Linked DNA regions of Homo sapiens: region 1 is linked to region 2. The links come from fine-mapping of genetic effects on gene expression. A gene starts in region 2. The other region holds a variant in brackets. All regions are shown on one strand. Distances are from middle to middle. Region 1 overlaps RUNDC3B (RUN domain containing 3B). Region 2 holds the start of ABCB1 (ATP binding cassette subfamily B member 1).

Evidence for each region. PIP is the estimated chance that this variant, and not a neighbour inherited with it, causes the effect.
Region 1: its variant is fine-mapped to the expression of ABCB1 in whole blood (TOPMed, PIP above 0.99).

Annotation. Positions count from the first base shown.
Region 1 is chr7:87,677,306-87,688,592 of GRCh38, reverse strand. All of the region lies in intron 2 of RUNDC3B (RUN domain containing 3B), which reads right to left. It also overlaps a transcript of ABCB1 not described here. Among named protein-coding and RNA genes, the nearest start is that of RUNDC3B, 55 kb to the right of the region's middle. The variant G/A (reference allele first, on the strand shown) is at 6,229.
Region 2 is chr7:87,595,328-87,606,614 of GRCh38, reverse strand. ABCB1 (ATP binding cassette subfamily B member 1) reads left to right here and starts at 5,731. Exons shown (of 28, transcript NM_001348946.2): 1 at 5,731-5,860; 2 at 6,425-6,498; 3 at 10,801-10,849. The coding sequence starts at 6,431. RefSeq lists enhancers at 6,830-7,219, 6,429-7,628.

The DNA of each region.
Region 1 (11,287 bases), 82 kb before region 2:
AAAAAAGGTCACTACTGATCAAAATGGGTTTATATAAAAATTAGTTCCACATAATAAATAGTTTTTTTCCTATTTTAGGGTAATTGAAAACTCCACAGAAGAAATAGGCAAAAGTCATGAACAGAAAATGAAAAAAAACAAACATGAAAATATATTCAATTTCATTTCTAAATACGTATAAATTAACATAAGATTATGTGTATATATATGTATATATTACATTATATAAAATGTGTAGCTCTCTGTTTTTAGAAACTATGTAGTGATTATTTTCTCCCAAATCTTAAATGTATTATAAAACATTAATATAAGATTCATTTTATTCCATATGCAATTTAAAACATTGAATCAAATTTACTAAGGTATACATAACCCCGGATGCTTCGAGAATTACATGAATACGATGATTTTCTGAGATACAATATCTGCTTCACCTTTCCTGAATTTCCAAGTACATAACTTAAAAGGGTGTTTCTCAGAGTGGCCTCTCCCATTGTCTAAAAGCCAAACTCTGGTGACCTTAAGAGCCAATTTCTTATCTCTGGTATCATGTTTTGGCCTGAGTATATGGGATTTTATTGGATGAATTGTGTTCATATGTTACTACAGAAACAATTTAAGTCTCATTTTCCAACAAAAGTTGGAAAATCTTCAAAAATGAACAAAGAAAACTCAAAAGCCAAATGAACAGGTTTATGATTATCCATTGTTTCTAACAGTGTTTACACTGTACTTCAAAAGATGGCCTCATGGGGAGGTAACTGTTTATCATCTAAGTCAGGAAGAGCTTTGAGGTTCAAGCCAGAGTTCCTGAGCAATGCTTAGGTATCATAACAGTTCAATTGGATTAGAGAAATTCTAAAATGTCAAGTCACAGGAGTTCTAACTCGTTTTAAGAGTCCAAATCCAAGTCCTATCAGAAAAAAATAAAGAAATTATTACTCTTCCATCAATTTTTCAACAAATAATGACTGAGTTTCTGCCATATCGTAGGCACTGCTCTAGAGATTTGGATACACCAATGAACAAAACAGATGAAGATCTTAGTCCTGGTAAAGCTTACGTTTTAGTGGAGGTGAAGAAAGATAATAAACAATAATCATAATAAGTACATAAAATAATATGCTAGAAGTTAAGACTTAATGTAACTCAGGGGAAAGAGGTCAGGAGTGCTTGAGGTTGAAAGGAGGGGAGGTGATTTATTATTTAAAATATAGTGGAAGGGTTAAACCTCATGGAGTAGTTTTCAAATGGATGAGGGTGTTAACCATTCAGATACTAGAAGAAGTGTGCTCCTTACACAGTAAACAGCCAGTGCAATGGTGCCCTGTGGTAGAATGTGCCTGATATAGTCAAGAAAAATCAAAAGACTGATAAGGGTAGAGAACAGTAAGTTGTGGGGGAAAAACTAGCTGTACACAAATATAACTGAAAAAATATTAAGAATCAATATAAAATCTAAACTGAATGTGAGTCAGCAAGCCAAATGTTAATAAGTATAATTAGCAGATTAAATTATACGCAATTTAACAGTGTCTTACATTTAATCATTTTTTCTTTAATAAGTGCTACATTTCTAATTGACAGTCTATACTTGTCTGGTATACTCAGCTTTTTCTTTTCTTTCTTTTTTTTTTTTTTCTTTTGGAGATAGAGTCTCCCTCTGTTGTCCAGGCTGGAGTGGAGTGGCACAATCATGGCTCACTGCAGCCTTGGTCTCCTTGGGCTCAGGTGACCCTCCCACCTTAGCCTCCCAAGTAGCTGGGACTACAGATGCACACCTACATGCTCAGTTAATTCTTTTTTTTTTTTTTTTCTAGAGGCGGGGTTTCACCATGTTGCCCAGGTGGGTCTCAAACTCCTGGGCCTCAAGTGATCTGCCTGCCTTGGCTCCCAAAGTGCTGGGATTACAGGCATGAGCCACTGCACCTGGCTAACTTTTTCATTTTAATCAGTTATTTTCCATATAAACTTTACAAAAATCACTAATACATCCCATCCTCATGTCACCAAGCTGAAGTTTACAACGTTGTCTCTGATGACTTTACTGCTAAATTTCTATTTTTCTTAATCTATGTGGCCTACCAGTCAGTCCATAAATAATCAAAGTCACAGATGACATTTTAAAGAACTGTAATTTTCATTTGAGGTACTTCTATGCCTCTTTCTTGTGTAAAGCCTTCCCTCACCCATCCAAGAAAAACAGATATACTCCTTTGTGTTACACCATGCTCGTTAATATACTTCTATTATGACTTGATGACATTAGTACACACAATTATTTGTTAATGTGTCCTTATTCTACCTTTCAAGACTGAGTTTCATGTGAAAGCATACCTTATTAATCTCATATCCTGGGCCCCCAGCACAGGGCCTAAATTTGTTGTTGAATAAGAGAATGAATGAGGTAAAGAGAATAGAAAAATTGTAAGAAAAAAAATTGTGGGTGGAGGGAAGCCAAAAAAAGCAGAAAGTATACATCAAGTGTAAATTTAAGGCATCTGTTTCAGAAAAAGAACAGGGAACTCAGGTTATGATTCATTTCCAAAGCAGAGAAAAAGTAGAAGTAATACTTGGCCAAGAAAAATATGGAGGGGTGATGGTAAAGGAGTATTCCTTGGGACTTCTTTTTACTGGGCTCTGTGACAAATTGTCCAGCTTTCTAAAATAAGTGAGGATCAAGGAGTTAGAATCTTACATATTATAATCGAAAGTGGGATCCTCCCCATTTTAAAATGTTTTAATGGGAAGCAATAGAATTTGGGGGAGTTATACATTTATTCCTTGTAGTAAATTTGCTGTTGCTATGAGTTTTGAAAAATAGAGGGAGTCATGTAACCATGATTATGAGACACATAACAGTTTCATCATGCAAAGAAACTCCTTCATCATGATGCTTGTCAACCCCCACCCTGCAACCTTTAATCCCTAGTACCACTTATCTGTTCTCTGATACTACAGTTTGGTCTTTCCTAGAATGTCATATAAATGGAATCATACGTAATCTTTAGGGTTTTGCTTCTTTCATTTAGCCATAATGTATCTGACATTTATACATGTTGTTGTGTGTGGAAATTTTTTTTCCTTTTTATTACTGAGTTTGTCCAGTGTATGAACATACAACAGTTTATCCAGGCATCACATGAAAGATACTTGGGTTGTTTCCAGTTTTTGACAAAAGAGCTTGATAAAGGTGTGTAGTGCTACCTAATATGGTTTGAATTTGCATTTTCCTAATTACTAATGATGTTGAACATCTTTTCATTTGTTTACTTGCCATATGTGTATCTTCTTTGATGAAATATCTGTTCAGCTCTTTGCATATTTTAAAATTGGATTGGTTTTCATATTATTAAGGTTTTTATAGCAATTCTTTGTATATTATGCATACAATCCCTTTGTCAAACATGTGATTTGCAAATATTTTTTCCTGGTCTATGCCTTGTCTTATCATTAACAGTGTCTTTCAGGGAGTAAAAGCTTTTAATTTTGATGAAGTCCACTTTATCAATTTTTTTTGTTTAATGGATTGTACTTTTGTTGTTATATCTAAAATCTGTTTGCCTAATTAAACAAAGATATTCTACATTTTTAAGAGTTTTATACTTTTACATTTTGTGTTTACACCTATAACCCACCTTGAGCTAAATGTGAGGTAAGGAACAAGGTTCACTTTTTTTTTGCACACAGGTATTCAATTAATCCTAGCCTATTATTCTTAAAGGTTATCACTTTTCCATGAAATTGTCTTTGCATTAGCAAAATGAATCAAGCATATTTATGTGTATCTTTTTCCAAACTCTCTATTCTATTCTATTCTTTTTTTTTTTTTTTTTTTTTTTTTTTGAGACGGAGTCTCACTCTGTCACCAGGCTGGAGTGCAGTGGCACGATCTCGACTCACTGCAATCTCTGCCTCCTGGGTTCAAGCAATCCTCCTGCCTCAGCCTCCTGCGTAGCTGGGGCTACAGGCACGTGCTACCATGCCCAACTAATTTTTTGTATTTTTAGTAGAGATGGGATTTCACCATGTTGGCCAGGATGGTCTCGATCTCTTGACCTCATGATCCGCCTGCCTCGGCCTCCCAAAGTGCTGGGTCTGCTCTATTTATCTATACGTATAAGCTTTTACCAATAACACACTGATTACTGCATCTTAACAGTAAGTCTTAAAATCAGATAATTTGAGTTTCCAACTTAGTTCTTCCTTCATGAAATTGTTTTGCCTATTCCAGTTACTTTGCCTAGACATATAAATTTTAGAGTAAGTTTTATATCTACAAAAAAAGCCTTCTAAAACTTTGAGATTGCATTGAATCTATAAAACAATATGAAAAGAACTGACATCTTAACAACGAGTTTTCCAATCTGTAATGAAGAATTACCCATCCAGAATATCAACAGTATCAATGTTGAGAAACCCTGTTGTAAACTTCTGTAGATGCCCTTTAAGGAAGTTTTCTTCTAATACCTAGCTGTAAAGATTTTTTTTAACATGAATTAAAGTTGAATTTTGTCAAATGCTTTTCTATGCACCTATTAGTAGGATCCTATCATTTTTATTCTTTAGTCTGCTAATAAAATGAAATACATCCATTTTCAAGTACTGAAGCATTCTTGCATTCCAGTTTGATCTGTCAATATTTATTGAAGATTCTGATGTCTGTGTCCATGAGGTGTACTGGTATGTACAGTCATTTCTTGTTTTAATGTATTTCACTTTATTGTGCTTTGCAGATATTGTATTTTTTACACGTTGAAGGTTTGTGTCAACCTTGCATCCAGCAAGTCTTTCGGTGCAATTTTTCCAATAGCATGTGCTTACTTTGTGTCTCCCTGTCATGTTTTGGTAATTCTCACAGTATTTCAAACTTTTTCATTATTATTGTATCTGTTATGGTGAACTGTGATGAGTGATCTTTGATGTTACTATTGTAATAATTTTGGGGCGCCATGAACCACACCTGTATAAAATGGCAAGCTTAATTGATAAATGTGTGTGTTCTGAATGCTCCAGCTACCGGCCATTTCCCATCTCTCTCTTTCTCCTCAGGTCTCCCTATTCCCTTGAGACACAACAATACTGAAATTAGGCCAATTAATAATCCTATAATGGCCTCTAAGTGAAGAGTGGCATATATCTCACTTTAAATCAAAAGCTGTACACGATTAATCTTATTGAGGAAGGCATGTCAAAAACTGAGATAGCCAAAACCTAGGCCTCTTGTGCCAGTTAGGCAAGTGGTGAATACAAAGAAAAAGTTCAAAGGAAATTAAAAGTACTATTCCAGTGAACACATGAAGGAAGTGAAAGAGCCTTATTGCTGATATGAAGAAAGTTTGAGTGGTCTGAATAGAAGACCAAACCAGCCACAACATTCTCTTAAGCCAAAGCCTAATCCACAGTAAGGTCCTCTCTTTAATGCTATGAAGGATGAGAGAGGCAAAGACGCCGCAGAAGAAAAGTTTGAAGCTAGCAGAGGTTGGTTCATGAAGTTTCAGAAAAAAGCCATCTCTGTACATAAAAAAATAATAATAATAAAACAAAAAGGTGAAGCAGCAAGTGCTGATGGAGAAGTTGTGCTAACTTATCCAGAAGACTGAACTAAGATAACTGATGAAGGTGGCTACACTAAACAACAGATTTTCAATGTAGACCTAACAGCTTTATATTGGAAGAAGATGCCATCTAAACCTTTCATAGTAAAAGAAGAGAAGTTAATGCCTGGCTTTAACGCTTCAAAGGACAGGCTGACTCTCTTATTAGGGGCTAACGCAGCTGGTGGCTTTAAGTTGAAGCCAATGCTTATTTACCATTCCAAAAAATCCTAGGGTATTTAAGAATTATGCTAAATCTACTCTGCCTGAGCTCTATAAATGGAGCAACAAAGCCTGGATGACAGCTCCTCTGTTTACAGTTTGGCTTACTAAATATTCAAAGCCCATTGTTTTGATCCACTACTCAGAAAAAAGATTCCTTTCAAAGTATTACTGCTCATTGACAATGCACCTAGTCACCCAAGAACTATGACAGAGATGTACCAGGAGATTAATGTTGTTTTCATGGCTTCTAACACAACATCCAATCTGTAGCCCAGGGATCAGGAAGTAATTTAGACCCAAGTCTTACTATTGAAAAAGTATATTTCTTAAGGCTCTAGCCTCCATAGACAATGAGTCTTCTGATGGATCTGGGCAAAGTAAATTGAAAATCTTCTGGAAAAGATTC[G/A]TCAAGAACATTCGAGATTTATGAGAAGAGGTTAAAATATCAACATTAACAGAATATCAACATTAACAGGAATTTGGAAAAAGTTGATTCCAACTCTCATGGATGACTTAGAGGGGTTCAAGACTTTGGTGGAAGGAGTCATTGCAGATAACATGGAAATCGCAAGAGAACTAGAAGTAGAACTTGAAGATGTGACTGAATTATTGCAATCTTATGATCAAACTTGAACAGATGAGGAGTTCCTTCTTATGGATGAGCAAAGAAAGTGGTTTCTTGAAATGGAATGTACTCCTGGTGAAGACACTGTGAACATTATTGAAATGACAACAACAGAAGATTTAAGATATTAAATGAACTTAGTTGATAAAGCAGTGGCAGGGTTTGAGAGTATTGACTCCAATTTTGAAAGAAGTTCTACTGTGGGTAGAACGCTACCAAATAACATTGCATGCTAGAGAGAAACCTTTCATGAAAGGAAGAGTCCATGGATGCAGCAAAATTCACTGCTGTCTCTTTGTTGTTGTTGTTGAGATGGGGTCTTGCTATATTGCCCAGACTGGTCTGGAACTCAAGTGATCCTCCTGCCTTGGCTCCCAAGTGCTGGGATTATAGCTGTAAGCCACTGTGCCCAGCCCATTGTTGTCTTAAGACATTGTCATATCCACCCCATCCTTCAGCAGCCAGCACATCAATCAGTCAGCAGCCATCAATATTGAGGCAAGACCCTCCACCAGCAAAAAGGTAATGACTTGCTGAAGGCTCAGATGATTGTTAGCATTTTTAGCAGTAAAGTAGTTTAATTAGGGTATGTACATTTTTTAGACATAATGCTATTACACACTTAATAGATTACAGTGTAGTGTAAATACAACTTTTAATACGCACTGGGGAAACCAAAAATTTTTTGTGACTTGCTTTATAGCAATATTTACTTTATTGAATTAGTCTTGAACTGAACAAGCAATATACCTCAGTATGAGTAGAGTTTCCTTTTCTTGTAATATTTTGTCTAATTTTGTATCAGGCTAATAGTTTCCTTATAAAATGAGTTGAGAAATGTTATCTCCTATTTTCTGAGATGGATTGAATAGGATTACTATTATTACCTTAATGGCTGGTTGCAATCAACAGCAAAAATATCTAGGCCTGGAGTTTTCATTGTTGGAAGGTTTTAAATACTGATTCAACTTCTTTAATAGATATAGGACTATTTGTGTTATCTACTTCTTTATGAGTTTTGTTAGGATTTGTCTTTCAAGAAATTGGCCCATTTCCTCCACAATTAACTTTTTATCCTTTGAATGTAAGGTCTGTAGTCATATGCCCTCTTTCATTCCTGATATTGGAAATTTGTATCCTTTCTCATTTTCTTGATCAGCCTAACCAGAAGTTTATGAATTTTATTAATGATTTCAAGCAATCATCCTTTCATATCACCAATTATTGTTTTTGTTTTTAATTTCATTGATTTCTGCTTTTATCTATTATTTCCTCCATTTTGCTTGTTTTGGGTTTAATTTTCCCTTCTTTATTTAGTTTCTTTTTCTTTTTTCTTTTCTTTTCTTTTTTTTGAGATGGAGTTTCACTCCTTGCCCAAGCTGGAGTGCAATGGCGCGATCTTGGCTCACTGCACCCTCCGCCTCCCAGGTTCAAGTGATTCTCCTGCCTTCAGCCTCCTAAGTAGCTGGGATTACAGGCACACACCACCATGCCTGGCTAATTTTTTGTATTTTTGGTAGAAACGGGGTTTCACCATGTTAGTCAGGCTGGCCTTAAACTCCTGACCTAAGGTGATCCACTCGCCTTGGCCTCCCTAAGTGCTGGGATTACAGGCGTGAGCCACCGGGCCCGGCCCCTTTTTTAGTTTCTTAAGGTGAAAGCTTAGGTTACTGATTTCAGACAATTCTTTCTAAGTAAGTTTTTAATGTTTTAAATTTCCTTCTAAGTGCTGCTTTAATTGCATGCTACACATTTTGATACAACGCGTTTTAGTTTTTCATTCAGTTCAAAAGACTAATTTTCCTCGAGAATCCCTCTTTGATCCAAGAGTTATTAGCAAAGACTTGGAACCAACCCAAATGTCTATCAATGATAGACTGGATTAAGAAAATGTGGCACATACACACCATGGAATACTACGCAGCCACAAAAAGGGATGAGGTCATGTCCTTTGCAGGGACATGGATGAAGCTGGAAACCATCACTCTCAGCAAACTATTACAAGATCAGAAAACCAAACACTGCATGTTCTCACTCATAAGTGGAAGTTGAACAACGAGAACACATGGACACAGGGTGGGGAACGTCATATACTGGGGCCTGTCTAGGGGTGGGTGGCTAGGGTAGGGATAACATTAGGAGAAATACCTAATGTAGGTGACAGGTTGATGGGTGCAGCAAACCACCATGGCACATGTAAAGTATAATTTGTTTAAAAAAGTGTATTTTTACATTTTCAAACATTTGGTGATTTTTCAGATATCTTCTGTTCTTGACATCTAGTTTCATTCCATTACAGAGAACATACTTTATATGATTTCAATTCTTTTAAATTTGCTAAGGTTTCTTTTATGGCTCAGAATAAGATCTTTTTTAATGTTCCACTTGCCCTCGAAAAGAATATATATTCTGCCACTGAGGAGTATTTTATAAATGTTAATTATAAATGTTGGGGTGGCCAGGCACAGTGGTTCACACTTGTAATCTCAGCACTTTGAAAGGCTGAAGTGAGAGGACCACTTGAGCCCAGTAGTTCGAGACCAGCCAGGGCAACATAGTGAGACCTAGCCTCTATAAAAAATCAAAAAATTAGCTGGGTGTAGTGGTGTGTGCCTGTAGTCCCAGCTACTCAGGAACCTGAGGTGGGAGAATCATTTGAGCTTGGGGATGTGGAGGCTGTGGTGAGCCATGATTGTGCCATTGCACTCCAACCTGGGTGACAGGGTGAGATCCTGTCTTAAAAAAAAGTTGGGGGCCGGGCACGGTGGCTCACACTTGTAATCCCAGCACTTTGGGAGGCCAAGGTGGGTGGATCACGAGGTCAGGAGATGGAGACCATCCTGGCTAACACTGTGAAACTCCGTCTCTACTAAAAATACAAAAAAATTACCCGGGCGTGGTGGCGGGCACCTGTAGTCCCAGCTTCTTGGGAGGCTGAGGCAGGAGAATGGTGTGAACCCAGGAGGAGGAGCTTGCAGTGAGCCAAGATCGCGCCACTGCACTCCAGCCTGGGGGAAAGAGCGGGACTCTGTCTCAAAAAAAAAAAAAAAAAAAAAAAGTTGGGGTGTTTTATAAATGTCAGTTGGCTGATAATATTGCCAAGATCATTTGTACCCTTACTAATTTTCTGTTTACTTGATCTACTATTATGAGAGGAGTGTTGACATTGCTAAGTATAATGTAGATTTTTCTATTTTCTCCTCTCAGTTCTGTTACCTTTTGCTTTTTAGACTCTGTTATCAGCTGCATACATACTTTGGTTTTGTTCTGTCTTCTTGGCAAATTAATCTGCTTTTTAATATGTAAATGTCCAACTTTATCCCTGTCAGTTTTCTTTGTTCTGAAATCTACTTTGATATATAATTAAATCTACTCCAACTTTTTTTCAATTACTTTCTGCATGGAATAACTTTTTCTATCCTTTTAACCTATCTTTATCACTATAATTAAAATGGGTTTCTGTATATATTGAGTCCTTTTTTTACCCAGTCAAAAAATCTCTTTTAATTGGAGTGCTTAGGCCATTTATATTTAACATATCTATTAATAAGGTTTGATTTAGGTCTACCATTTTATTGTTTGTTTTCTGTTTATCCCTTTTTTCACCACCTTCTTTTTGGATAACTTTAATGTTTTAATGTTCCATTTTAATTTATTTATTGGCTTTTTTGGCTAAAAACTCTTAGTATCTTTATAGTCACTACTTTATGAAATAGAACACCTAATATTTAATAGTCTACAGTTAACATTTTAGCATTTCAACTAAATATATATAACCACATAGTTCCCTTTACTCTGTAGCCTTTGCTTTAAAAGTCACTTGTACTATACATGCAAACCTGGAAACCTTCCCCAGCAATGCCATAAATTTTGCTTTCAAGAGTAGAGTCAGGGCCAGGCATGGTGGCTCACACCTGTAATCCCAGAACTTTGAGAGGCTGAAATGGGAGGATTGCTTGAGTAGTCATATTGAAAGACCTTAATAGAGGAGAAAAACTCTGCTGTATTTATTTAGATATTCACAGTTTCTGTTGCTCTTTCTTCATTCATGAAGTTCCAAGTTTTCTTCTGATACCATCTCCCTTTAGCCTGAAGAACTTTTGTTAGCATTTCTTTTAGACCAGATTTGCTAGTAATAATTCTTAGTTTTCCTTTATCTGGGAATTTCTTTATTTTGTCCTCATCTCTGAAGTACATTTTCACTGAATACAGAATTCTGGGTTAGCAGTGCTTTTCTTTTAGAACTCTAAAGATGCTATTTCACTGTCATCTGTCCTCCATGGTTCCTGTTGAAAACCCTGCATTCACTTGAACTGTTGTTCCCTATATGTAATAAATTATATTTCTCTGGCAGGTTTCAAGATTTTTTGCTGTAATCTTCTATGTTTAGAAGTTTGATTATCATGTGTTTAGAAGCAGTTAACTTTAAGTTTATCCCTTTTGAGGTTTTGTTGGGTTTTTTGTTTTGTTCTGTTTTGGATTTTTGTGTGTGTATGTATGGTGAGAACACTTGAGATCTACTATCATAGCAATTTTCAAGTACACAATATAGGTCTCCAGCACTTAATCATCTTATAACTGAAGGCTTGTACCCTTTGACCAATATCTCCCCTTTTCTCCTATCCCCCAGCCTCTGGTAATCAACATTTTACTCTCTGTTACTATAAGTTTGACTATTTTTAGGCTCCATATCTAATACATGAGATCACGTGGTATTTGTCTTTCTGTGTCTTGCATATTTCATGTAGTTTATTGACCTCCAGGTTCATCTGTTACTGCAAATCGCAGGATTTCCTTTTTTTTTTTTTTTAAATCTGAAATGGTATTCCATTGTGGTGTG
Region 2 (11,287 bases):
ATTTTCTGAGGTTATCACAAACTCTGTAAGCACGTTTTATATTACTACTTTTTTAAAGAGGATGTATAATAATTAATTCATCCATATATATGTGGTTAAGTATTCAGGTCACTGCTCATTTTTCACTGTTATAAAATAAAGCAGCAATGAATACCTTTGGCTGATATTTTTTTCTGTACTTGGAATTATTTCTTTAAGATAGATTTCCTAAAATTGAATTACTGAGTCAAACAGACTTAAGTTTTCCTTATGTATGTTTCCTTATTCATTTGAATAATTTTCAACTCCTACTTGTTTATTTAACTCTTGTGAGCATGTGATAGTCTCATTTTTCAAAATATCTTTGCTGTTGTAATTTGCATTTCTTTGTAGTTAGCATGAATATTTCAGTATGTTTTCTTCTGTGTACCAGTATACTACATACTTTTTTATATGAATTGCCTATTTGCATCTTTTGCTCGGTTCTATTAGACCTTTGAATTTTTTCTTATCCATTTATATAAGCTCTTTATATATTAAGAATATTAACCTATTGTGATATTTGCAATAAATAGCTATATGGTTTGTTGTTGGTTTTAAATGTGAATTTATTCAATTTTCTTCATAATTTTGTTGTTTTTATAGATTTCTTTAAAAGTAATAAAATTATTGCCATATTATTATTTATTTTCAATGTCCATTACTAGCCCTTTCCAGTCATCACTTTTACTCTCATGTTCTTAATTTTTATTCATATCTTGGCTCCATTGACCATCTTTATTAGGATATTTGGGAAATAATACAATTTATACTAAACACACATCAAATCTTACCTTATTTTCTTCTTACAAAAACCCTAGGAATATGCTGTTTTTGTCTTTATTTGAATGACACAGAAATCAAGGTTTTTGAGCAGTGGAGTATTTCTTCAAATGACACAGAAATCAAGTCTTTTGAGCAGTGGAGTATTTCTTCAAAGCCACACAGCTAGTAAGTCATGAAGCTGGAATTCCAAGAGTTGCCACTTCATTTTCTTCTTTCCCTTTATCTTACTCAGTTGTCTTCTCTCCTCTTAATTTTGTCATTCATTTAAAAACATTTCTTGTGCTATTATGGTAGATTTATTTTAATAGGGGGCAGTGACTTACTCAGAGAGATGATTCTCTAATGGAGTTTTAAAGATCTTAGAAGTTGATAGAGGAGGCTGGGCGTGGTGGCTCATGCCTATAATCCCAGCACTTTGGGAGGCTGAGGTGGGTGGATCACTTGAGGCCAGAAGTTCAAGATCAGCCTAGTCAATGTGGTGAAACCCCATTTCTACTAAAATTACAAAAATTAGCCTGGTGTGCTGGTGCACTCCCATAATCCCAGCTACTCAGGAGGCTGAGGCATGAGAATTGCTGGAACCCAGGAGGCGGAGGTTGCAGTGCGCCTGGATTATTAACACTACACTCCAGCCTGGGAGACAGAGTAATACTCCATCTCAATAAAAAGAAGTTGATAAGGGAGATAGTTCATGGCAACGGATCTTTGAAGGCACGCTAATGATAACTTAGGCATTTAGCCTACTAGTGTAATTTCCATAAATCTGCCTCTGATGTCATACTCTCAGCACCTAATATTTTCTACAAACATTTATTGAAACTTTATTTTGTATAAGTCTCTGTCCAGTTTGAATATTTAAAAAATTCATAATCATATGAAACATTAATAATAAATACAAAATGAGAGATGCCGATACTGAAAAGTAGGATTGCGGAGTGGTAGAAAATATTTCTGGCTGTAGTAGATGGGGAAGTGTTCAAAGAGGAGTATAATTCAGGTTTCCATTTGCCATCGACTTATCACATGGCTAACTCACTAAGCGACTTAATTAAAATTAAATTAATTTATCATCATCTGATCACCATTTCACACAACTCATGTCTGTTGCTGTATTGGCTAAATGATGGCAAGACAAACGACCTCTGAAAATGATCCTATTGACCTTCGGAATCTGGATTTTTTTTTCAATGCAGGTGTCCATAGAAGCAATCTGATGTAATCCAACATGAGTTCAAGCACAGTCATTTAATATCCCCTATCAAGTACAGTCATTTAATATCCCCTATCATCACATGTCCTTCATACATAAAAATCATTACATGTGAAAGGGTGGAGAGTGTGTGGATCCCTTATTATTGTGTTATTGTAACACAATAACAATATTGTGTTATTATTGTTAACACAAGTGAGTCATATGTCTTGCTCTTTGGACTGAGTGGAAACTTGTATTCTTTCTCTGCCTCAGGTCAATTAACTTCATTGAGGTGAGTTGCATTCCTTCTTTAAGCATGTTGAACCTTCAATCTGGACTCAGATGGGCTAAATAGAGGAGCTAGGAAAAATACAGAAAATAAATTATTAGAGAGATCAGAGAAAGATACATAAGATTTACAATAAAAGAATTATGAGAAAAACATCCAAAAGAATTAAAAACCATAGGAGAAGGAAAAATAGGTGAACAGCTTTTTAATTTCTATAAATGTGTTGTTAATACTCATAATAAAGGACTCAGAGCTGGGATATGAGAATAATAGGTCAAACGTATATGGATACATAGATGTGACTACATACATGAGTTGCAAAGAATGCTAAGGAGGGCAAAAAGAGATTGAGAAGAGGGCATTATTACTAATATATAGCAATGTTGAATGTTTAGGGTGTTTCAGGCACTGTACAAATCTTTTAAATACACAAATCACTTAATCTTGCCATAACATTAGAAGATACTATCTACTCTTTACCAAAAAGGTAACTGTGGGATAGCAGAGTTAAGTAACCCGTTCAAACCTATGCATAATAATCAGCAGAGATGGTCCTTATCTAAGTTTTTCTGCCTTTGAAGTCCAAATAGTTTAATGCAGCCAGGTACTAAAGAAGAAAACTTTTGTAAATTAGTTTAGTTTAATGATTTACATGTGGAAAAGCACAGAGTGAAAAGCACATATCATCTGAGAAGCCCAGTGAGTTTGGCTGAAATGGAGTGAACATGTACATGTTGAGGGTGAGGAAGATGATTAGAGAGAAGTGATGTGTTGTGGTTCTTAAAAGCTAAGAGGAAACTGTTAGATATGATATAGTCTGTGGCAGGGAGCCATTGCAGGTTTTCCAAGATGGACTCATAAGGAGAAAACACTTCGTGGGACTGGAAAAGGCAGTGAAGTGGTGTGTCCTATGATAATGTACTACAGTGTAGGATAGTGGTTAAGAGTACAGTTATGAGAGAGGGACTACTGGTTAGCACCTTACCTGCTGTGTGACTGGGCAAATAATGCAAACCTCAGTGTCTTTTATTGTAATATGGGAGTAACAAAAATAGTAACTACTTCATAGGATTCTTGTAAAGATTAAATGACTTAATTTCTTTGAAGTGCTTGGCAGTTCCTGATAAATGACCAGTAGTTAATAAATGTTAGTTGTTATTATTATCATTATATATTATTACTCCCATAGATACATATAGAACAGACTGCAGCAGAGAGGCAAATCTTTAATGTTGTCAGAGTATAGACAAGTTGGTGAAATGGCTACATGAGAGCGGAGGACAAGAAGGTGCAGATTGTGGCAGTCACTTCAAATGGAAATATCACCGCTTGAATGAAGGTATATGAGTGTCAACTTGCAAGGGGACCAGGTAGGTTTCATCAGAAATTAAGGAAGCTTAAGGAGAACAGCCAAGTTCAGCTTGACAGAAGTGGTGGTGGCACAAATGCAAGACTGGTGTCTTTCAAGAAACCAAGGACTGTTGAAAGTAGCAAGAGCTAGTTTGTTTTAGGTCCATCATGTTTTATATTCACACTTTCATGTCAGTGGAGCAAAGAAATGGAATACAATATAATAGAATGGTAGAATCTTATTTTTAAAATCTGTGTTATTCTGATCTTTAACTTACTTATATCTTTGATAGAGATCTTTACCTGATGCTCAAGATTGTAGAAATAGTATAATCAACATAACAGTATAGCACTGTATTTATATCCTGCACTGTTTAGGGAGGGTTTAAGGCCATTCAAAAGGATACATAAAATACAACAAGATTACATAAATGAAAGGTGAGATAAAGCAACAAAGCAAAACAAAAGTGAAAACAGAGATCATAGGCACAAATAAGATTAAAAACGCATGTAATGAAGATGAAAGCTTTTACATTTACCCCAGATGGACCACAGGGTTGTTGTTAAGCCTTTAAACAGTGAACAATGCTGTACACTTGCATATGCAATTAGAACATGTGGAAAAAATAGTGGCCTGTTAGAAGCCTAATTAACAATTTGTGAAAAAAAAAAAAAAAAAAAAAAAAAGAGGCCGAGCTGTAGCTCACGCCTGTAATCCCTGCACTTTGGGAGGCCGAGGCGGGCGGATCACGAGGTCAGGAGATCAAGACCATCCTGGCTAACACAGTGAAACCCAGTCTCTACGAAAAATACAAAAAATTAGCCGGGCGTGGTGGCGGGAGCCTGTAGTCCCAGCTACCTGGGAGGCTGAGGCAGGAGAATGGTGTGAACCCGGGAGGCGGAGCTTGCAGTGAGCCGAGATCCTGCCACTGCACTCCAGCCTGGGCGACAAAGCAAGACTCCGTCTCAAAAAAGAAAAAAGAAAGAAAAACAAAAGAAAACTTCATTGTATTGTAAGGCCAAGAACAAAATATATCAAGATAAGGAAAATTTGTAGTCAAGAATAGAAAAAAATTATGGCTTTGAAGTATGAGTTATTTAAAGAAAGTGGAAACATCCTCAGACTATGCAGTAAAAAACAAAGTGATTTTCTTCTTCTAAACTTATGCAATAAACTGATAGGTAATATGTGAAAGTCATAGAATGTAGACTAGAGGATACAACAAACCTATTTCCTCTATGTTCATAAGAAGTAAGAAAAGCTCTGATGTGAGTTAGCATTGCTTTACAATTTTGAATTGTGCAGATTGCACGTACTTTTCCTCAGTTTGAAGTAAATAGTGGACAGGAAAAAATATTAAATGTTGGCAGTAAATATGGAAGGAAATTACAACTAATGTAATATGCTAAAACATGCTATGTTTATTTTACTAATTTGAATTAAAATGTAAGAATTTAAAATGCCCTGGAAAAACACGGGCATTGATCTGACGTCTGAAGTTTTAAAATATTACACACTTTGAAATAGCATTTGTACCTTGAAATACCTGTCTCTATATATTTTTTAAAACTTCCTTTTTCTTTCATTCCATTTATCATCAAATAAAGGATGAACAGATGTAACTCAGAAACTGTCAAGCATGCTGAAGAAAGACCACTGCAGAAAAATTTCTCCTAGCCTTTTCAAAGGTGTTAGGAAGCAGAAAGGTGATACAGAATTGGAGAGGTCGGAGTTTTTGTATTAACTGTATTAAATGCGAATCCCGAGAAAATTTCCCTTAACTACGTCCTGTAGTTATATGGATATGAAGACTTATGTGAACTTTGAAAGACGTGTCTACATAAGTTGAAATGTCCCCAATGATTCAGCTGATGCGCGTTTCTCTACTTGCCCTTTCTAGAGAGGTGCAACGGAAGCCAGAACATTCCTCCTGGAAATTCAACCTGTTTCGCAGTTTCTCGAGGAATCAGCATTCAGTCAATCCGGGCCGGGAGCAGTCATCTGTGGTGAGGCTGATTGGCTGGGCAGGAACAGCGCCGGGGCGTGGGCTGAGCACAGCCGCTTCGCTCTCTTTGCCACAGGAAGCCTGAGCTCATTCGAGTAGCGGCTCTTCCAAGCTCAAAGAAGCAGAGGCCGCTGTTCGTTTCCTTTAGGTCTTTCCACTAAAGTCGGAGTATCTTCTTCCAAAATTTCACGTCTTGGTGGCCGTTCCAAGGAGCGCGAGGTAGGGGCACGCAAAGCTGGGAGCTACTATGGGACAGTTCCCAAGTGTCAGGCTTTCAGATTTCCTGAACTTGGTCTTCACGGGAGAAGGGCTTCTTGAGGCGTGGATAGTGTGAAGTCCTCTGGCAAGTCCATGGGGACCAAGTGGGGTTAGATCTAGACTCAGGAGCTCCTGGAGCAGCGCCCAAACCGTAGTGGCACTGGACCATGTTGCCCGGAGCGCGCACAGCCCGCGCGGTGCGGGGACCTGCTCTCTGAGCCCGCGGGCGGTGGGTGGGAGGAAGCATCGTCCGCGGCGACTGGAACCGGGAGGGAGAATCGCACTGGCGGCGGGCAAAGTCCAGAACGCGCTGCCAGACCCCCAACTCTGCCTTCGTGGAGATGCTGGAGACCCCGCGCACAGGAAAGCCCCTGCAGTGCCCATCGCGGCCAGAGCAGCTGGGGCATCAACGGCGGGCGCTCCCTCTTACTGCTCTCTGGCTTCGACGGGGGACTAGAGGTTAGTCTCACCTCCAGCGCGCCTGAGGCTCATGCATTTGGCTAATGAGCTGCGGTTTCTCTTCAGGTCGGAATGGATCTTGAAGGGGACCGCAATGGAGGAGCAAAGAAGAAGAACTTTTTTAAACTGAACAATAAAAGGTAACTAGCTTGTTTCATTTTCATAGTTTACATAGTTGCGAGATTTGAGTAATTTATTTCTAGCCTCCAGCTCTGAAATAAATGACATGTTGTTGTTTTTAATTATTTTTAAGAAACGCAAGCTAGCCTTTGGAATCAATATCCCTGCTTAGAGCAGAAGTTTGTTGGCTGAGTGGAGCACAGCATATGCATTTTCCCTGTCTTTTTTGTTCTTTCTTTTAATGATACATAATATTTTACATATTTATGAAATGGGGTACATGGAAGCGTTTTTTACATGCCCGGAATGTGTAATGATCAAGTCCGGGTATTTGAAGGATACATCACCTTAGGTATATTTCATTTCTATGTGTTGATAACATTTTAAGTCTTCTAGCTACTTTGAAATATACAATATATTGCTAACTGTAGTCACCCTCGTCTGCTATCGAACATTGGAACTTATTTGTCCTATCCAACCGTTCTTAGTCATTCACCAACCTCTTTTCATTTCACCTTTTTACCCTTCCCGGCCTCTTTCCCTTAGTCTTGGTGTGCCTCTTTCTCAGCTTTCCTGCCCCAGACAGGCGGATGCTCATATGTGTTTCTGTCTTATGAACTTCTGCTTTTCAAGTGGTGTTGGTCGCCCACACGTGAGCCATATGCTGCTGGTGATCTGCTCTGTGGTCCAGGCTCTTGCTTCCGGTAAATGGCTATGTAAACATCGCGTTTGTGGCCTGGCTGATGAGACAGAAGGTCAAAAGTACATTTAGGTTGTTAACTGGCAATAAATATCTGTATATAATATTGGTAATGTAATCATATAGGGAAAATAATTATTTAAAGTAAATTTTGATCATGGTGCTCTGCCTTTATAGAATATTTAAAACTTCACTAAATAGATTCATTGTTAGTAGTAAATTGTAAAATAGACTAGTAAGTTTAATAATATTAGAAACTGTAATGTAAATTATAAGATAAATTAGTAAACACATTAATATTATAAGAAACCAAGCTTTTCAGTGTAAGAGAAAAAATACAAATGTGGAAATCAAATACATTTTTAAAAATAATGTTAAGTTTGAATTAGAAATTTCAATATGAATTCATAATCTTTTAATAGTTCATTTTCAGTCCACTGAAAGGGACAGTAACAATGAGCACTGTTAGTACCAGATCTGGGTTTCTAAATACCATTCCTCCCTAAAAGAAATGAACCCCTCAGTAGCTAATTTCAGCCAGGTCTGGGACAGGAAAAATAGAAAGTGAGCCTGGAGTATCTTGTGGTACCTGAAAATAAGGAAGTGGAGTTTAATGGAGTAGTCGAAAGCACACTGAAGCTGTCTGGAAGATGCTTCCAATGGCCAACTCTGGGACAATTTGAGCATCAAAGAACATCGTAACTGTAACTGATTTTGAGATACTGAATGCTACTGCTGAATGCTTAATATTCTGAGAGAAGGGAAACTGAAAGAAAGTGTGAGAGGTAGAGAAAATAAAGCAATGATCTTTAGAGAAAAATTCCAGCTATCATTTTGGAACTTCCATTGTTATAATAGATTCAGGCAAGGATTGTCAATGAACTCTAAACTATCAGAAAAATGTTGTATCTAAGAATTTTCTTCAGAATGTTTACTAATTGGAAGGAGAATATGCTTCTCCAATTAAAGATTTTGCAGTTAGCACCTTAACCGAGTGATCAGACCTGGTATCTCTCACGGTAGAATGGACTGTAGTAAATGACTCATCACTTGGATTTTGAGTAAACAACATCACCTAGCAAATATTAATATATCTGCAAAAACATTTAGTCTGTATACAATTAAACTTGTAGACTGGGGCTGTCCAATGGATATATCATGTGAGCCACATTTGTAATTTAAAATTTTCTAGTAGCAACAGTAAAAAATGAAAATAAAAAGATAAAGTAATTTTGTAAATATATTTTATAGAACTCAATATGTCCAAAAGATTGGATTTTCTACATGTAATCAAAATGATTAATAAGATAGTTTACATTCTCTTTTATGCTAAATCTCCTGTTTGATGTGTATTTTACATTTATTGCACCTCCCATTTGTATTCAGTTTGATACAGGTATACCCAAGATGTGGGACATTCTGTAAGACAGCTGTTCTTGTTCCTTTACAAAAGTCAATGTTAAAAAAATAAAAGGAGGACTTCTAGATTAATAGAGACTAAAGAGATATAACTACCAAACGTAGTGTGTGAACATTACAAAACAAAACAAAAACAATCTAAAAGTTCAACAAGGAAAAAATCCTATGGAAAACATTCTTGGGAGATTTGAATGTGCATTAGATATTAGCCAATATCAGAATTGTAATCACTTTTCTTAGATGTGATAATGGTAGGAGAACATGTAATTGCAATTGAAAATTTTTGTAACAAAAATGTTCATATAAACCATGAAAAAGACTCCATAGAGTGGAGGGTAGGTATTCCACTTTTTGTTTTTAACTTTGTATTTTTGAAAACTTGATAGCTTAAAGAATTATGTACTTATGATACAAACATTTAGGTAGATTTAACTAAGAAATATTGAGGGTATGTGAAGAGAAACAGTAAAGAAAATTGTATGATCTTTCACATATTTCTATTATTGGTTCTATCATGGCCTATAGACTTTTTTTTTCAAATTAGAGATTATATTTTAAAGTAGTTCTTATTAAATTGTGTTCATTGCCATTGATTTAAATCTATTTTAACATGGGATTGTAAAGAAGCATATGGCTTTGGTAATAGATAATGCTGGGATAATAGTCCTATTTGGAATATGACTATTAGCAAAGATTCTTTATTAAAATGATGTTTGATGAATGACTTGTCTTTCTAAGCACTGTTTTTTGTGCTAATGGGGATAAGTAAGTTATCTAGTAGGGGTGAGAGTTTGTGTGAAAGTGCATTTTAATGTGATGCGATGCAGTATCTCAGAAATCTGAGGTTGCACCTTATAGTTTGGTGGTCAGGGAACAGACTTGGCATTTAAATATTGGCTTAGTTATAGCTGTGAACCTTGGACAAGTTAACTCTTCTCACTCTTCTACGTCTCTAAAAGAACAAAAATGTGTCTTCCTCATAGAATTGTTTATGAATTGTGTGTGGGAAGTGCTTACTTAGCCAGTGCCTGGAACATTATAACTTCTCCAGAGTAGCAGCTGTTTTAGAGAACAAAAAAATAAATAAAAGGCTTAGAGCTAAAACTCAACTATTTATGGCTATTTTTCTCCTTTCATCCTGGTTCCAGGGATACTGAAACCATGCCTTTACTGGGAATTGGGTGGGACCAAACCTGAAGAGTTGTGTTTGTGTATTTTATGTCTGTCTAACATTACTCCAAAGCCAAATGGGTAAACTCTGGATTTTTTTCTTTAGAAGTCTCCTCACCTCTTTTGACCTCACTTAGTGTAAAGAACAAAGACAAAGATGAATTTACCTTATGAACTTAAAAACCGTGTAAAAAATAACACAAATCTTTTCTAAAATAGTTTTTCTTTTATACCTACAAAAATACAGATGAGGCAGATTTGTTACGGTTGGTTTGCTTTCACATCCTAGGTAGCAGTTACACAGAGTAGAAAATGGGCTACAGAGTTAGATTCATTTGTATCTGGGCTCAAAATAATAGTTGACCTTATGCCTGAGGAGAACTTTTTGACAATTTATAGAACATCATTTCTGACCATAGCTTTCTAGCGTGCATTTATTTCATAATGGTCCATTTAGGACTCCAGACATTTTTTTCACAATTAGATTTGCTTATAAGGAGTAATTTAATTTTCTTCTGAGGCTAGTTATGCCCAGCATCTAATTGCCACTTCTCTTCACTAGAAAGGGAAGGATTAAGAATAATATCTGGGTAGTGGATGGATAAAATGTCTACTGCCATCATTAATCAAATGACAATTAAGGGGATTCATAATTAAGGGGAAGCATGAATGATTTTCTAATTAGAATAAAAACAGGGAACTCTTTTCAGTATGTATATTTTTCTAATTGCAAAGGGTGTATGTATGTATTCATCATAGCAAATCAGGAAATATCAAAGGCACAAGGAAGAAAATATTTTTAGAGAGATTCCAGCACTCAGTGATAACCACGTATGTAGATTTCTAAGATATATGTAAACATATTTAAACATTATAAATGGGGTCATACTATTATCATCCTGTTTTTTAACTGTATAATATAGACATATTTCTTCTTCCTATTAGTCATTAAATATACATTCTATGTTAATTTGGGTAATTTAAAAAATATGTACTTTTTAAAGTTTTATGTAATTCCATTGCTGTTTTGCAGTGAAAAAGATAAGAAGGAAAAGAAACCAACTGTCAGTGTATTTTCAATGGTGAGTTTTGAATTTATTAACTATTCAAAATACTTCGGAAATTTGACATCTCCTTACATGGAAAAGAGATATTTCATCTGATGTAAGATTTTCGTATAGGGTATGTTAATGGAGATGCAAAATAAATTGGTTTGATTTAGCTTATTTTCAGGAGAATGCTGATCATAACTTGCTATCTATATTACTAATCTACAGCCACCATTCCTGACTTAGATTTCAATTCTTCTAATGAATTATGTTGCCAGTGATCCATTACCTACACAAGCACCTCTCCCATCTGCATAGAGGAAACCAATCACATAGAATGCTGTCTTTAATGGCTCTGAAATTTGGCAGGTTTTTTAGGTCAAAGTCAGTTGCTATCAATAAAAGTTAGCAATGGATTATTTATTACTATGCAAATTTTAGGTCATTTAGGTTAGTCCATTGCAAATTTTA